Homo sapiens: one gene and its partner. The protein of the gene in region 2 purifies or fractionates together with the protein of the main gene of each other region. This does not show direct contact. Each region holds a gene or a part of one and is shown on either strand. Other genes may lie near its edges.

The links.
Region 1: the proteins of CD22 (region 2) and PTPRC purify together in Homo sapiens (affinity purification with western blotting; 2 studies listed by BioGRID and IntAct, with this or other methods). This does not show direct contact.

Annotation. Positions count from the first base shown.
Region 1 is NC_000001.11:198,640,594-198,649,842, reverse strand, and holds part of PTPRC (receptor-type tyrosine-protein phosphatase C isoform 1 precursor), read right to left. Parts: intron 1-9,249. UniProt on the Homo sapiens protein: Protein tyrosine-protein phosphatase required for T-cell activation through the antigen receptor. Acts as a positive regulator of T-cell coactivation upon binding to DPP4.
Region 2 is NC_000019.10:35,338,160-35,347,408, reverse strand, and holds the end of CD22 (B-cell receptor CD22 isoform 1 precursor), read right to left. Parts: intron 9,242-9,249; coding exon 8,978-9,241; intron 6,529-8,977; coding exon 6,271-6,528; intron 6,067-6,270; coding exon 5,803-6,066; intron 5,708-5,802; coding exon 5,444-5,707; intron 2,581-5,443; coding exon 2,484-2,580; intron 2,359-2,483; coding exon 2,283-2,358; intron 1,897-2,282; exon of another isoform or gene 1,808-1,896; coding exon 1,689-1,807; intron 1,259-1,688; coding exon 1,174-1,258; intron 844-1,173; coding exon 712-843; 3' UTR 48-711; downstream 1-47. UniProt on the Homo sapiens protein: Most highly expressed siglec (sialic acid-binding immunoglobulin-like lectin) on B-cells that plays a role in various aspects of B-cell biology including differentiation, antigen presentation, and trafficking to bone marrow.

The DNA of each region.
Region 1 (9,249 bases), on a different chromosome or scaffold from region 2:
TCTTGTTATCTCTCACCACTAGGAAGTCAGTTTCATAAAAGTAGTTACACTTTCTGCTTTCTTTACCACTGTGTCAACACTTAAAACAGTTTTTAGCTTAGCAGGGGCTCTATAAACAATTGATGAATCGATGAGTGAATCATCTCATTTAATATCTCTTGCTATTATTTCCATTTTACACACGAGGAAACTGAGGCTTTGGAAGGTAATTCTTCCCCAATTTTTCATCATTGGAAGTCTCCAATGATGAAACTGGAATGGAATCCGGGCAAGATTTCAAAGACTGACTTCTTTAAGTACTTTAAAAGTAGCGATTGTCTGAATCCAACATTTGCACTAAAGTTTCTTCAAGTTACTTTTATCAGCTCCCTGACCTTTTCCTTTTTCTTTGGTTTATCTGTTTCCTTCATATCACCACTTCCTTTCCGTCAAAACTCTCAACTGATGTCTTATGCTTCATTTATGTTTCCTTAGCCATTACATACCTTTATCATACCTAAAGCATCAATAAGTAAATTCAGAAAATAAGAACATGGGTCATTGGAAAGTAGAAATACATAGAGTTTAGTAAGCATAGTTAAAATCTTATTTTATAAACCAGACTATCTGGAAATCTAAGTCTAAGAAGTCAAAGTATAATATTTGGCCTAAATTATATGATTGGAATCCACATTTATCAAATGAACCAAACAATAATTTTTTTTTGTTTTGTTTTAGTCTCCTCAAAGTTTAGCCAACTTGTCTCTGGAATAAAAAGTGTAGGATGGATTTACCTGGTTCACTTAATATGCTTTTTGGATGACTATGAAAAGATTATCTAGTGTCTACACTTCCTGGAATAAGATGAGAACCTTATGTGTTTTCCATGATCAAAGTGTTTAACAAAGGTCAAGTTACTTCCCTTGCACTTCAAAAACAAAAAAAAATCTAGATACTTTGGTGAATTATTTAATGTTTTTCACTTTATGTAATATCAAAAATGAGTTGGGTGGGGGAAAATCCATTCTTTCCATCATATCACTCACCTCAAGACAGACTCAGTCCTGTCCTTTGTTAGCCTCCTTTTCAGGATGATTGTAACACATCACATCAGTATTCATAGTGAAGACAAATTAATCAAAGATGTCTTTTTGTTTTTTATAAAAGTCATACAATCTTATGTGAATTTTACATAGATACAGAATATGCTAAAGATATAGAAGCAGCTCAGTGCACAATGGTTCATGTAAGTAGCTAAATCAGGTGAATGAACTTACATGCATATGTCACACAAACAACCTCTGAGAAATTACCAGCTCCCATTCAGTCCTGCTGTGATTTGCCCATCATCACACAGTCATGTCTTAAATTCCAGGTTATTAAACTGACCACTAAGAAGATTGAGTAACCGAGTGGAAAATCTAGAATCTGGTCTATCTAGAATCAGATAGACCCCGATTAAGACCCCAGCCTTCACCCCACCCCCTACAACTCTCATTTGCTATTAGCTGGTGACCTTGGAAAATTAGAAAGACTACCAAAAAAAAGTAAGAATTTGTTTGTGTGCTGTGTATTTCTGTATGTTTTCCCTTTTCTCTCCACATAAACATTTTTTCAGAATAAATTACAAAACAAACAAACCAAAACAAAATAGGACTATTGTCTAGTACCTCTTCACATCTACCAACTTTATTTATTGAATATCTAATAATAATCTACACAACTCAGTGGCAGCACCAGAACTTCCATAATTTAAAAGTCTGCAAAGAAAATCTGGTTGTAACAGGGACCTGGAGGAAGTCTTGTAAGAATATAAGTTTTACTTAATATGTTATATATAGATCTTAAGATAGTGATTTTTAAATTTATAATTTATAAAACATTGATAACACCAATAATTATCTGTAGCAAGGTATGTTGTTACTTTGAGGAGGAAGTTTTGGGGTGCTGATGAAGATTTTGGAAGATTTAAAACACCATCTCCAAGAAGCCACTGATAGAAAATACGGGCTTCATGGGATAGGTGTCCTCAGCCCAAATTACATGGAAAACACTCACAAAATAGTTGTTTATCAAATGAACTAATAAGTTAATAAATAACTGAATAGATCTAGTTGTCCTAGTCAAATGAAATACTCAAAAAGTTTTTAGATCCTGAGAACTGGAAACCTGAAATTCTTATTTTTCTATTCATTTCTATATTTTTCAAATTGTCTAGAATAATCAAGGTTTACTTGGGAAAAAATTGAACATGAAATTTCATACACAGCATGTGATCAAAAGATAGAGGAAGAAAAACAAAATGTTAGCATGGGCTCTAAGCAATTTCTTTTTCCTTCTATTTCTTGACATTTTCCAAATTTTCTATTATGTAGAAATTTTTACCATAAATAATTCCCATAAATAACAATAAAAGGACAGAATCAAAATTGTTTTTAAGAATTATTAAGTGCCTTCTACATACAGAGTTGGGTTAAGCTGACAGACCATTCGTTTGTTCAGCAAACAGGTACTGAGGACCTGCAGGCACTGGCAAATAAGCAGAGACCCAGTGATAGCCTACATGAGCTCACCAGTTGCTGCAAGAGAGCCTGGTAAAGAGAACTCCAAGAGAATTATTCAAAGGATCATCACAGCAGAAGAATACCTATGCAGGTGTGAAAGGGGCTGAAGAGCAAGGGTTATACAAGTGGGATAGGGGCTGTCTAGAGGACATGATCTTTACAGTAAATTTGAATACAATTTATAATTTGCACCATTGATAAAAAGATGTGGAGAGAAGGAAAAACAGCATGGCCAACAGTAGGAAGACCAAACAAGGTCACATTTTTAGAAAAATGCAAGTTACAAAAAGAGTCACAAAGTGGTTAGAGATAAAGCCAGACAAATCTGAAGAGATTCAATTACATATGTGTGTGCAATGCTAATTGCTTTTATTTTTCCTAAATGCACAAAGACCAAAGTAGGATGATTTGACACTTTCCCCACACACTATTTTACATTGAGAAGATTTTAAACTTATCACCTTGATTCTTCTCTTTACTTTTTGCTCCAATAATGAATAAGAAATTGGTACTAAGTGTGAAAGCTAATAAGAGGAATACCATACAAATGAATGAGAATTCAAACATAATAATTCCAGGCTATCAAGCAGTCTTAAAAGTGTTTCTAAAGTTTCTATTGGCTAGATAAGAAATAATCGAAAGTCTTAAAATTTCAAAATGAATCTAGCTCAAAGAGCTGTCAATCTCCACATTAATGTCACTGATAGAAATTTCAACACAACAAAAAATTGAGAATGGTTAATATTGCCCGATTTAAGTTTGACAAAAATGAAAAATTACATAAATTATATTTTTTGTAGCATTGAGACACAAAACCAATTAAAAAAACTAAACTAGCGGTAGCCAAAACTACACACAGAAAATGTTTCTGGCCAAAGAGAAGAATTTAAATGGTTTTGGAAAATTTAGATCTGTATTGTTTGAAAAGAAGAATTACCTTTAGAAAAGTAATAATCACAAAGGAAAATTCCAAGCATAAGCTATATTCAGTAGAACTTGACATGGGTAAAATGGATTCATGAATCTAATAGTTATTGTAAAAATTAAATGAAAGTGATGCTGCTAAACATTAGTTCAGTAAAATTAAAATTAAAATGGAAAAACTGCCAAGGATTTCACTAGGTAATATATATATAATCATCAGGGAATTAAATTGGTCTAATGGAGTTTTTTTCCTCCAAAATTTATCTTTAAGGAAAACTCATAAATGTTGGTATATTCTAATTAAATATTTGTTTTCATAAAAGTTGAGCCAAAACATACTTGGTATCAAATCACGGGTTCAGTATATTTTCTACCAATAGGAGCTTTTAAAAGAGGAATGGACAAAGGTAAGTTCTGCCTTTTACAAAGATTATCCTGGTAATGGTGGGTATGGACACAGTAAGGATTGAAGGCAGGTGAGACTTCAGGATATTTTTACACTAAGAAATCCCTGGCAAAGTAGAAGTGTGTGGATTTACAAACTATTTAGACTGTAGAATCTGGAGAAGCCTGAAAAATCTCTGAAATAAAGAATGCAAAGTTAAAAGAATTCAAAGGCCTATAAGGGATTATGCCTCTATCACTTAACCTTAAACTATCCCTTTATCTGCTCACAGTGTCTGAAAGGAAGAGATATCATTTGGAATCAAGTTTATGCTAAAAGGCTATGTGCTCTGATTTCATGGGCTCACATGAAAAAATTTACTTCTCAGAGTATCACATAATTTCAAAGCATTTTCACAAATATTATAACTTTTAATGCTTACAACACTTTATAGATGAGGAAATTGGGTCTCAAGGGTGAAAATTGATTTAGCTAAAAATCACAAGATTCATAGAGTTAGATTTTCAAAATATTTATCACTACAGATGTCATGATGTTTCCCAGCTTGGAGTGGTTTCTGCCTCATTTTCTATTATGCTTAATATGTTTTATCAGTAAATTATTATATTTTTCATCAAGTGGATGTGTTTAAAATATAGTGGCCACACTGTATTGCCATGATATTTATTGTGATTTTGATATTGTCTCTTAGCATCATTGTTATTTGTATAGGTTTCTCTAAACTATCTCTTGAATGACCACAGACAAATTGTACTTTAATTTAAAATGCAGAGAATGTCTTCTTGTCTATCAGTGATTTCTATCAAGTTTGCTATACCAGCTGTTCATATCCTAATACGTATGAGTGTGTTACCTGAGTTACCCTCAACTTTTGCCTTCTACTCCTACATTAGCAAATCCCTATTTTGGAGGGTGGATGGTTTTCTTCCAGGTATGCAAATTTTGATTATATTCTTAAATAAATGAATGATGATCATTTATACTTCAATATAATTGCATTGTAATTACAGTTTTATAATAAATACCCTGTATAGTAGAAACTGAAGTTTCAGTTAGGTGGCTTTTTCCTTTCAGACACTTGACTCATTTTTAGAGGAAATAAATATTGAATCTTTAAATACTATAGAGTTAAGCACCATAGAATATATTTGTTTAAGCTCGGTCTCTACTAAAATCTCTAATAAAAACTGATAATTTTGCTGATTGTCTGTTAAGAAATCAATCAATTGAAGGTACTATGAATGGATATAGAAGATGCTTGTTTACTTCACTAATATTGACTTTATGTGTATTTATTCTTGTCCTAGATGAAAGAGTAGGAAAGCTTTTGTTTCTCTATTTGTTCTTGTTTTTTGTTGTGATTCCTGAACATATAATTCTCTGCTTATAGTAGTCATTCCTAGACTCTTTTAACAGACTGATATTGAAGTAGCACACTGACATACAAACAGGAATGAAGATTAAATATTTTAGACAATAATTAGATATTTTCTAATATAAATATTGGTTAGAGCCAGGTACACAAAATCCAGTGATTGCCATAATTTTTATTCCTGTATATTTGGGTATTATATAGAAATAGGCATCAAATCATATTGCTAAAGTCTTGCCATATTTTTTTTCTGGTGTATCATATCTTAAAAAGTGAGGTCTTTATGTATGCAAAAGTCATAGCACTAAGCCTTTGGTAAAAGGCCACTGCTATGGGATTGAGTATCTAGTACTTACAAAGATATTTAGACTAGACAGAAATTAATTTTAAACTGAAGATATGTTAAATTTCCATTCTAATTGTTTCCCATGTAAATAACTACATAAATCTATAAGATGTCTAGAAAAAAAAATCAAAGGTCAGCACTGATGAAAAATTTCTCTCTCTGCACCAAGGTGACATATACACACATGGTCTGAAGATGAAACCTTGCCTTTGTGAACATTGTGTATTTACCAAGAGAATGAATCAACCTCAGTACAAATCTCTGCCCCTTACCTACTCAGATTGACATTCATCACCACACTGTCTGTAAAGAAATTATTCCCAGCTCTCTACAAACTTTTGTCGTGCAAATAATGCAACACCTAGGGTGCACCATATTCCATCTGCCCTTGCAAGCAATCCCAGAGCACTAGCATCAGTGTTCAAACCAGCAATTGCCATGACTGGACCTGATCTGTTTGTGTTATCACTCCGCTACATTTGTATTTCCCTCCCATTCCTTGCTTTTTCTCCTATGGGTATGTGTATCTGAAAAATAAAATTGACCCTCCAAATTACATTACCTAGAATGTCCAAAGAGCAGATCAAAGAAAATTTAGGAAAAACATTCTCAAACTATGAACTTTTAGGAAGTCAGGAGGCTCTTTCCAGACGAGAGGTGAGATAAGGAGAGTAAGAAAGGGAGCAAAGAAAAAACAAACAAACAAACAAACAAAAACAAAAAGGCAAGACTGTAAACATCTAGATCCAAAATCAACTTAATTTAATCTGGACAAAATAGTCCTGCTGTCTTCATCCTCCCACTTCGCCTCTGGTTAATTTTTTTATCTCATATTCTCCCTCTTTTTGACTTCCCTCTTTGAAAATTTTCCTTTCCTTTGTCACTACAATATGCAGTTTTATTTTTTTAATCTATGATTTATTCAGTGTCTGGTGAAAAATTAGGTATGGGAACTATGAGTTTATGCCTTTTGTGTCTCCTATACCTGATTTCATGTAGGTTACAATGTCAAGAAATCCACTAATTCACATGTCATCATCATCATCAATCATCATCACAAAAAAGAGCAGATTGAAATGACTTGAAAAATGCCAAGAAAAGGTGATAAAAAGTGTGCAATTCAATGGAAATATTTTGTGGCAAAAGTGACATAAGAGAACATAATAGAAGAAGTAGGATTTGCCCAGAACCTTAAACACCTTGAGAAAGTATAGAGGTGGGTGTTAAAACTACCTCCTGTTTGTTTTCTTTTAATCAATCATAGAAGAAAAAGAAAGAAAAAAGAAAGAAAGAAAGAAAGAAAGAAAGAAAGAAAGAAAGAAAGAAAGAAAGAAAGAAAGAAAGGAAGAAAGAAAGAAAAGAAAAAAGATCCCTTCCCAGCTCCAGGCCTAGCCCCCAGATCATTAGTGGAACCAGTTTCTCTGGCAAAAAAGATTAGAATTTATACCAAAGGCAATGAGAAGAAATCAGTAACCCTTCACTTTTTATTTTACTTTTTAAGCTGTAGATTACATTAAAAAAAGGATGAGACTTCAGACTGATTAAAAAAACTATTACAATTTTACAGGTGAGAAATAATAAAGCCATGAATTAAGATGATGGCAATGGAGGTGTCAAAGCAAGAAGTTATTAGAGATTATTACAAAGCAAAATTTCAGGACTTGGGGAGCATGTTAATGTCTGGATTTAGGAAAGGTAGTAAGTTCCGTGTTTCTGAGGGATGAGTCTAGAGATGGAGAATCAGAGTGATCAACACATAGTAGGCAATGATACGTAACCAAATGGAGAAAAGAGAACACAGGCGAAGGTCTGAAGTTCATGGGAACGCCAAATAGACAAACATGGAGAACTGATAGATAGATAGATAGATAGATAGATAGACAGATAGATAGATTGACTAGTATATATAACCCACAAATATATAACTAGTTTATGTGTGAGTATCTACATAAAGAAATATATGTTCAAGTATATGAACAATGTAGAAACATCTATATTTCTATACTGGTTAATTGTCACTGGTGAGAGGATAGCAAATAGTCCAGAACAAAGAAAGAACTAAGTTCAAGCTAACTACTCTGCCCCTATACTTACTTACACAGAACAAAAGAGAAAAAGATAATATAGGCCCTAGCCGTAGTCTTTCCTGTAACAAAGTACATTTCAAACTTTAGCAATGATAAAGGTCACAGGCAGGTTTTTAGTAGGACATTTTTTTTCAAATTAATAAGTAATTCTAATCACATTCCCAAATCTCTAAATTATGGAGTATTTAGAACTTAATAGGACTGCTTACCAAATTCAATTAAATAATTTTCATTGAATGTCTGTGATGTGCAAGGCACAGTCCATGTTTATAACATGAGATATATATTTTTAATACAGATGGAAAAATGAAGAATTATGTCCAGGAAATGAGTCTTAACTGTTATGACTCATAACAAAACTCATCATATACCTCACATACCATAACTCATATACTCCTAACTGCCATGCTATAGTGTGGTAGATCTGCCTGGCATTACAACTTTATTAGAACCAGAGAACACTCACCTTCACCTGCCTTCTTAAAACCATCATTGTCCCCTAACATTATTTAGAAATTCTAAACAAAGTTTGGCTTCCAGTTGCCATGGCAAAGAGGCACAGAGCAAGAGGATTAGGAAGTCTTGAGTAAAACTGAACCCTGCCTGGTTGTTGCCGTGGCAAAGATTAACTTTGGCCTTGTCCGTGTGTGCATTTTAGATATTAAATAAAATATTTGAATTATGCATAGAGTTACCATTGATGGCTCTCTACATTTGGCTCTATTTCTTTATGCCTTTACAGCATACAATATAAATTTTGTTCCCCAAAAGTTTATTATTTCCTGTAGGCACTAAACTAATTTTAACACGTTAAAATGAAACATAGAATCCAACTCATTTGTTGCTAAAAAAGAAAAATAAATAATTTAAAGCATTAAGAATTTTCCAAATTATACATTAAATCACAAAATGTTTCTTGCAACTTGAAAGGATTATAAACAATATTTGCAGATACAAATGATTATATCTGTATATGTTTTTCCACAAATAAGCATATATCTCAGGGAGTCTACAAATGTCTTTTAGAAAAATGTTTGCTCTCAATATTTATGTGAGCAACTGAAGATAAAGTTGAGTTTTCAAAATAAATTTATGTATATCCATTTATTTGCTATGGTATAAATCATTCAGCAAAGTTGATATAAAGGTTTCTAGACCCCATCATATTATTTCAATTATAAATTCAAAGATGTGTCTTATGGTTAAAAAAACATCCTGTAATAGAATGAGTTGAATTTTTATTCACAAAGGAAATATTTCACACTCTGATTTAAGCATATAATAGGATATTTGGTCTATTCAGGAGGTTGGGAAGTTTGCCTGGAATAAAAAGCAATGGAGCTAGACCTGAAGAAAATAATAGAAGTTAAATGAATATGAAGAGAAGAAAAATATTCTGGCTTACAAAATGTCTCAGTATTTCTTTATGCTCATTTAAAAATGCTTTTCGACATTTCCTGAGTGGGAATTTTAAATGAAAATCTGTTCTGATTTGTGATAATATACATATATCACTTCATTGAGATTATTATTCTTTATAATTTACTTTTTATTATCATAAGCTTTAAAGG
Region 2 (9,249 bases):
TCTCCTCATCCCCACTCTGACTCCACAGACTGAAAAGAGTTCACTGGTTCTTTGAAGTGGCATCTGAGCCATTTTTATTGTGAGCTCTGTCTCCCTGGCAGGTTAATCCACACCAGTGTGTCCATCTCAAACCCGGAGTCCCCAGAGTCAAGGGGCCGCTGATACGTACGTCTCCCCGTGCAATGCCTCACTTCCAAAGGAGAAGCCAGGCCAGGACTGGGCCCCTTTCTACTTCGTTTCTGTCCTTTTCTGGGCTTTCCCTCAGAGGCAGAAACTGGGCATAATATTCGTGAGTGGGGATGTCAGATCAGGGGTAGAGGGCCAGAGAGATGGAGAAGGGAAGGAAAAATGATGACGAGCAGATCCCAGGAGGGACACAAGCAGCTGGGGGTGGAGATGGCCAGTGGCCGTGGTGGGGGCAGGGGGAGGTGTGCATGTCAGGGCAGGTATTTAGATGGATTTCTGGGTAGCAAGGAGAGTGGAAGAGAACAGGGGCAGGAGTTTTGGAGGTTTGGGGTTACCCTCACCAAAAAGACTGGCTCTGAGCCAGGCACAAGGTTCTCCGCAGTGAGTGTGTGTGTGTGTGTGTGCGTGTGTGTGTGTGTGTGCGCACATGCGCGCAGGAGGAAGCCATGTGGCGGTGTCTGGGGAAACTCGGGGACTTCCCTGGCCCCCGCTGCCCCCAGTGCCTCTGCTGCAGCCCATCCAGTGTCAATGTTTGAGGATCACATAGTCCACATTTTCTTGTGCCTGAGGCCGCTCCCCGACCCCAAACTGGATCAGCTCTGAGTAATGAATCCCCTCATCTTCTGGAAAATCTGGAATGACGTTCTCATAGTCGCCCTGAGAAAACCGCATGGTGGTTAGCCTGGCCCCACTGTCGCCAGCCTCCACCGCCGCTTTTCTCCGCATTCTCTCCTTCATTCCACCCGGGGGTCCAAAAGCCCAGGCGGGTGTCCTCGTGTCAGGAAACTGGCTGTGGCCGGCATCCAGGACCTGGAGGTACCTGCCTGGCTCTGGCCAGCTCTGCCGGAGCAACCGTCTCCAACACCCAACCTCTGCCACCACGGATGCCTACCCAACTCCTTCCTATGTGGGACCCACCACTGAGGCCAGGCCCTGTCCCCAGCCTTCCACAGCCCCTCTGGGGAGACCTGGGGAGACCCTCCTTACCACTTGGCGCTTGTGCAATGCTGAATAAGTGACCGTGTCATCGCAGTCCGGGGGAGGTCTCTGCATCTCTGAGGACTCTGCATCTCTGAGAGACAGGGCAGATAGACGACCACGCATGAAGCATCTCCCACGAACTCTCCTCCCTCTCAACACCCAGAGCCCCCAACAGCACCCCAACCTCAGCCCCTTATGTAAAACCTGTGGCCTCCCCAGTGCCCAAAGCTCACAGTAGGAGCTCGTGCAAATGTGCGTGGAGGGAGTAGGCGTGGGTGTGTATCATGAGGTCTTGATCTTTGTGATAAGAACGGACTGGGCATGTGTGCTGCTGACTTGAAGGAGCAGGTCCACTTCTGGAGACTGGCCCTTACCCAGAGGCTTGTTGCCGAGTGGGAATGAGGCAGAGCATGTATCAGGGTGCCTGGCATGGGCCTGGCACAAAGAGGGCAGGCGGGACAGAGCTTTTCCTCCCGCCTCCCTCCCAGGGTGCAGGGTCACCCTCCTGGTACCCTCAGTACCCAGTTCGTGGTATGTTCATCTCGGGAAAGCGCAGGGTGGTGTAGCTAATGCCATCTTCCATCATTGGATTGTAGCATCCCAGGGAGTGGGGGCCTTCAGAGAGGGGGGCCCTTCTAACCTGGGAGGGAGACGAGGATGAAGTGCTAACCACCTGTTCCCCAACCCTCGTCCCCTTCCCTGGCCTCTGACAGCCCAGGTCTCCTCAGAGGACATTTTATCCCCTTCCTTCACCTTGTTTCCCCACTCAGCTTCACAGTCTGCCTCATGCCTACCCTTTTTTTTTTTTTTTTTTTTTTTTTGAGGCAGAGTCTCAGTATGTCACCCAGGCTGGAGTGCAATGGCGCAATCTTGGCTCACTGCAACCTCTGCCTCCCAGGTTCAAGCGATTCTCCTGCCTCAGCCTCCCGAGTAGCTGGAATTACAGGCATGGACCATCACGCCCGGCTAATTTTTAAAATATTTTTTGTAGAGACAGGGTTTCACCATGTTGGCTACGCTGGTCTCGAACTCCTGACCTCAGGTGATCCACCTGCCTCAGCCTCCCAAAGTGCTGGGATTACAGGCATGAGCCATCGTGCCCAGCCCCATCCTACCTTTTTATTCCTCACAAAGAAGCTCTGGCCGCTGGAATTCTCCTGAAGCCCCTGCTGGCTCTGTGTCCTCTTCCAACTGAGAAATAAAGGCACATGTGTGAGGGTCAGGGACTCCACAGGCTGGAGGCTTCGAGATGGAGCAACTGGACACGGGCCTCTGCCAAGGGATAGAGGAGGTGGTGGGGGATGGCAGGAGCTCACCGTCGCTGGAGCTTGAGCCCACAGATTGCCAGGATGAGGATGGCGAGGCAGGACCCGAGTCCCACAGCCACTCGCCTGCCGATGGTCTCCGGGCTATCTGGGTGGAGAAAGGAGAGACCTTAATCAACTGAGGGGCCAGCTCTCCCTGGCAGCCTTTGCCTGGAAGGCATCCTGGACTTCTCTCTGCAGCCAGACTCGTCCTTCTCCCCTGCATGCGTGCAGGGGTGCAGAGGAAGAGGGTGACAACGGCCCCTGCTTGCTCTGGGCCTCCCTTTAGGAATAAGGCACTAATTCTCCTGAGGAGCTGCTTTTCCCACAGACGTGGCACGCCCAGAGCCTGTGACCCGCACCCGCATAAATGGGTGCAGCTCTTCACGGCAGTATAGCTGTGTGATCAGCTCTGAAAGTGCACCTGTCTTCCACCCAGCAATTCCACATGGGAATGCATCTTGCAACTGTCCTTGCAGGCGTGCCCAAAACAAGAGGCTGCAGACCTAGGCCCTGAAGAGGGCACTGGGAGGAGGATGTATGCAACCTTCATACGCGAGGACTCCATGGCCCCAGGAAAAAGAGGAGGCTCTCAGGCTGTCTGCAAAGGGGATACCCAGGGAACAATGGTTTTATATGATGGGATGTGTCTGTTACATTTCCAGATAACATGTTTCAGATGTTTTCCTTTGGCCTTCGGCCGTGCTGGTGATGGTTCCCTAGATTGACTGATTGATTGATTGAGACAGAGTCTCGCTCTTTCACCCAGGCTGGAGTGCAGTGGTGAGATCTTGGCTCACTGCAACCTCTGCCTCCCGGGTTCAAGCGATTCTCCTGCCTCAGCCTCCCGAGTAGTTGGGACTACAGGTGCGCGCCACCACACCCAGCTAATTTTTGTATTTTTAGTAGAGATGGGGTTTCACCATTGGCCAGGCTGGTCTGGAACTCCTGGCCTCAAGTGATCCACCCACCTTGTGGCCTCCCAAAGTGCTTGTGGCCACCCACTTTGGCCTCCCAAAGTGCTGGGATTACAGGCGTGAGCCACTGTGCCTGGTCAGGTTCCCTCAATTTAAGGCCATGTTTCCAATTATTAATCTGAAAAAGTACAATAAATTAATTAGGTATCTTCCATATGCTTTCAGACTCTTTTTTGTTGTTGTTATTGTTTTGTTTGTTCGTTTTTAAAATTTTTTTTGGTATTTTTTGTAGAGATGAGATCCTGCTATGAGGTGTGGGCTATGTTGCCCAGGCTGGTCTCAAACTCCTGGGCTCAAGTGATCCTCCCACCATGGCCTCTCAAAGTGTTGGGATTACAGGCATGAACCACCATGCCCAGCCTCCAGACTTTAGACACTCTGTGTATGCATAGATACAGAACAATGTCCAAACAGTATTATTACATGGAAAAAAGCAAAGAAAATTCCCAGGCAAAGTGTGGGCTCTGCCTCGTCTGTGTCATGAGGAAGGGTATATAGGCACAGACCTCTGTGTGTGAATTGTGCGTGTGAAAAATACCCCTGGAGGAGATGGGAAGACTGTGTGCAGTGAGATGGGAAGACTGTGTGCAGTGAGGACCTTTGGTGGGGATGAGAGTTCTCAGGGATCAAGAGTGAGCCGCGTCTGTCTTTCCACTATTTACCCTTTCATGCTTACATTTTATTTTTTTACCAGGTGCTTGTATGATCTGTTTAAAAACCACTCAAGTTTACTACTGTGGAGGCCGAGGCAGGAGTATCACTTGAGCCTAGGGGGTCGAGGCTGCAGGAGCTGAGATTGTGCCACTGCACTCCAACCTGTGCAACAGGGTGAGACCCTGTCTCAAAAAAAAAAAAAAAAAATCAGCCGGGTGCGGTGGCTCACGCCTGTAATCCCAGCACTTTGGAAGGCCGAGGCGAGCGGATCACGAGGTCAGGAGACTGAGACCACGGTGAAACCACATCTCTACTAAAAATACAAAAAATTAGCCGGGCATGGTGGCAGGCGCCTGTAGTCCCAGCTACTCGGGGAGCTGAGGCAGGAGAATGGCGTGAACCCGGGAGGCAGAGCTTGCAGTGAGCCGTGATCACGCCACTGCACTCCAGCCTGGGTGACAGATCGAGACTCCGTTTAAAAAAAAAATCATTTACGTTTTAAAAGATAAAAACAAGGAGCCTGTCAGGGCTGAGAGAGACAGAGTAGTCAGAGAGAGAGAGACAGGGACCCAGTAGGAGCTCAGGACTTCTGGAAGGTGGAGCAGCCTGAGAGGGGACCCTAGAGGGAGGCAGGAGAGACTGCAGGGGAGGTAGAAAAAGAGAGACTGGTGACGCAGGACAAGACGACTCCTCCAGCACAGCGGCAGATGGCCTGGAGCAAGGGGTGTGAATGGGAAAGGGGACAGTGAGGTGGGGAAGAAGGGGCCAGCTGGTCTGGAAGGCTTTTCGGGAAGTCACTGGAGGAGACAGGGCCAGAGAGGAGCATGAGAGGAAACAGGGAGAGGCACAGTGGCTCATGGCTCTAATCCCAGGGCTTTGGGAAGCTGAGGCAGAAGGGTCACTTGAGGTCAGGAGTTTGAAACCAGCCTGGTCAACATAGTAAGACCCCATCTCTACAAAAATGTAAAAATTAGCCGGATGTGGTGGTGCATGTCTATAGTCCCAGCTACTCAGGAGGCTGAGGCGAAAGGATTGCTTGAGCCCAGGAATTGGAGGCTGCAGTGAGGTGTCATTATGCGACTGCACTCCAGCCTGGGTGACAGAGTAAGACCTTGTCTCTATAAGAAGAAGAAGAAGGAAGGAGAAGGAGAAGAAAGAGGAGGAGGAGAGGGAGAAAGCAGAAGAAGAAGAAGAAGGAGGAAGAGGAGGAGGAGGGGAAGAAGAGGAGGAGGAAAAGAAAGAGAGAAAGAAAGGAAGGAAGGAAGGAAGGAAGGAAGGAAGGAAGGAAGGAAGGAAGGACTGACCACCACCAAGAAGAACAAGAGCAGGAAGAGGCCTTACAGTAGACGGTGAGGGTGCTGAGAGGCGAACGGCCCTTGCCCACACTGTTGGTCCCCTGGCACCAGTAGGCACCCGAGTGCTGGACCTTCACCGGCTCCAATCTCAGCTTCTGGCTGTGGTAGGGGAGGCTTTGGTTATTCCAGTCAAACCAGGTGTAGTGGGAGACGGGAGGGTTGGCGTCGCTCTCACAGGTCAGGGTTGCACTCTTCCCCTCCATCACTTGGTCCCCCGGGCTCATGGACACACGCAGCCTCCTGGGTGCATCTGCATGGCGGGCAGGGGGAGGGGGTGCGAAGTCACTACCAGGCAGGCCACTGGTCCCTTCTCTGCTCCACTCCCAGCCTCCGGCCCTCACTCACACAGCACTTCAAGTGTCCAGGCCTTGGACGCTGTCTGTCCTATGGAGTTGTTCACCCAGCAGCTGTAACTCCCAGCATCTTCTGGGGAGATGGAGTCAAAATTCAGCTGGCTTTCTTTCCCCAGAAGCCTGCCATTTTTCTCCCAGAAGAACTGGACTTCTTTGGGGTGGCTGCTTGAGAAGTCACATTGGAGGCTGACCGAGTTTCCAGAGTGAATCTCGGAAAGGGGCTTGATTTTCCGGACCCTCACGTCTCGGGGGGCATCTGGAGGGCAAGGGTCCCAAGCTGACCTCTCCGCTCCCTGTCCCTTTTGCTGTCCCCAGGCCTCCCCTCCCCTTGGCCCTGACGCCAGGCTCCTGTCCCTCAATTCTGTTGAAGACACTGGCCCAGGCTCCGGCCTCGTTGCCTTCATCCCCTCATCCCAGCCGGGCCACCTCCCAGATCCCCCTGCCTAGCCCAGGGACTCACACTGGACATTCAGGGCGACAGGGGAGGCCCACGAGCACCAACTATTACAAGCTGCGCAGGCGATGGTTGTGTTGTCCCAGCCAACGTTTTGGATCTTCAGCACCCCAAGCGATGGCTCCTCCCAGGCGCCATGGGGTTTCCATTCATACCGGGTAACACTGGGGTTACTGGAATTGTAGTTACAGGAAAGGGTCACTGTGTCTCCTTCTCGAATCGGCATGGGGTTTTGAATCACTGTGGTCACCTTCTTGGGAGGATCTGGAAGAAAACCAGAGAGGTGAGTAAAGAAAAGCCAGCTGTCCACAGTACCCCTTCCCTCCTGCTTCCTCTTCTCCCGCTACCTGTCCCGGGCATCTGCACAGGTCCTAAATTAATCAAAGGGGGGCTTGTGCGTCCTTCCTGCATCTGTGTGAGAACAGAAACCCTGCCCTGGCTCTCTGGCCTGGCTGTGGTTTGGTGCAGGGGTTCAGGGCACAGCGCTGAAGCCAGACGGCTGCTGAGAGGCGCACGGGCATGGGCTGCAGGTCTCAGTTTACACGTCTGTCAAATGGGGTCCTGAGGCCGGGCATGGTGGCTCACGCTTGTAATTTCAGCACTTTGGGAGGCTGAGGTGGGCAGATCACCTGAGGTCAGGAGTTCGAGACCTGGCCAACACAGCAAAACCCTGTCTCTACTAAAAATTTTAAAAATTAGCTATGCATGCTGGTGCATGTCTGTAGTCCCAGCTACTCAGGTGGTCGAGGCAAGAGAATCGCTTGAACCCGGGAGGTGGAGGTTGCAGTGAGCCGAGATCAAGCCACTGCACTCCAGCCTGGGCAACAGAGGGAGACTCCATCTTAAAAACAAGAGGCAGTGCGGGGTGGGTGGGGGGTGAGTCCTGAGAGTTCCTAACCTCCTGGGAATTGTTTCAAGAAGGAAATGAGATGACTCCCTTAGAGCAGAGTGTGGCGTGTGGCAAACACTCCACAAACATCACTGTGGCTGCTGTGGTCACGCATCCAGCTGTCTGAGATGCTCAGGATTTGGGCACCCCTGTCCTGTTAGCACATATGACATCTCAGGGTCCAAGGATCGAGCTTATGTGTTCTTTTTGTCCTGTGCTCTACATGGTAACAAGATTCACTGTGTTAAAAGGGTCTTACAATGGAGAGGTAATGAGACAGTTTGCCCCAGTTCTCATTAAAAATTTCAAGATCTCTCAAGACTCAGCCACTGCCTAGGGACGCTAAGTCTCTGTGTCCCTCATGGAGTCCTGGTATCTTGCAGTTAATTATTCTTTTTTTTTGGAGACAGAATCTCACTCTACCCAGGCTAGAGTGCAGTGACATGATCTCAGCTCATTGCAACCTCTGCCTCCTGGGTTCAAGCGATTCTCCTGCCTCAGCCTCCCAGGTAGGTGGATTTCAGGTGCCTGCCACCATGCCCGGCTAATTTTTTGTATTTTTAGTAGAGACAGGGTTTCGCCATGTTGGCCAGGCTGGTCTCGAACTCCTGACCTCAGGTGATCTGCCCACCTTGGCCTCCCAAAGTGCTGGGATTACAGGCGTAAGCCACCATGCCTGGCCAATCCATTCTTTTTTTTGAGACAAGGTCTCACTCAGTCACCCAGGCTGGAGTGCAGCGGCATGATCACAGGCTCACTGCAGCCTCTACTTCCAGGCTCAGGTGATCCTCCCACCTCAGCCTCCTGGGTAGCTGAGACTACAGGCATGCATGACCATGCCAGGCTAATTTTTTTTTGTAGAGATGGGGTTTTACCATGTTGCCCAGGCTGGGCTTGAACTCGTGGCCTCAAGTGAGCTGCCTACCTTGGCCTCCCAAAGTGCTGGGATTACAAGTGTGAGCCACTGTGCCCAGCTCACACCTATAATCCCAGTCCCAGCATTTTCTTTTTCTTTTTGAGACCCAGGTCTTGCTCTGTCACCCAGGCTAGAGTGCAGTAGCAGGAACATAGTTCAGTCTGCAGCCTTCACTTCCTGGGCTCAAGTGATTCTCCCTCCTCAGCCTCCCCAGTAGCTGGGACCACAGGCACGCACCACCATGCTCAGCTAATTTTTGTATTTTTTTGTAGAGATGGTATCTCGCTGTGTGGCCCAGGCTGGTTTCAAACTCCTGGGTTCAAGAGACCCTCCTGCCTCAGCCTCCTAAAGAGCTGGGATTGCAGGCGGGAGCCACCGCACCTGGCCTCATTCATTCAACAAGCATCTACAGGCCGGGTGCGGTGGCTCACGCCTCTAATCCCAGCACTTTGGGAGGCCGAGGCGGGTGGATCACGAGGTCAGGAGATCGAGACCATCCTGGCTAACACGGTGAAACCCCGTCTCTACTAAAAGTACAAATAATTAGCCGGGCGTGGTGGCGGGCGCCTGTCATCCCAGCTACTCAGGAGGCTGAGACAGGAGAATGGCATGAACCCGGGAAGGTGGAGCTTGCAGTGAGCCGAGATTGTGCCACTGCACTCCAGCCTGGGAGACAGAGGGAGACTCCATCTCAAAAAAAACTAAAACACAAAAAAACAAGCATCTACCAAGCACCCTCCATGAGCCAGGCCCTATGCTAGGAGCTGAGACAGCAGTTGTGAACAGGAGACCCTGGCTGCTCCTTGCTCTTGACTCCAGGACCCCGGAATGCCCTGCACCCCATCTGCCTTCCCCGTTCCCTGTGTCCATCTTCTCTCCCTAGAACCAGAGGCTCCGTGGCTACTCACACTGGACATCCAGCTCAGCTCCCGGGCCCCTCTGTCCAGTACCAAGAATGTTTTCTGCCACACAGGAATAAGTCCCAGCGTGCCAGGGGAGGATCTTTGGGATGTGGACTTTCTCCTCTGTCCTTCCCTGCATTTCTTTCCCATTGTGGTACCACGTGTAATTTGTTGGAAGAGGATTGGCCAGTGACATGCAAAGAAACTCGACTTGACTTCCCTCCACAGCCGGTGAGTGGAGGATCTGAACCGTGGAAGGTTCCGGGGCATCTGGAAGA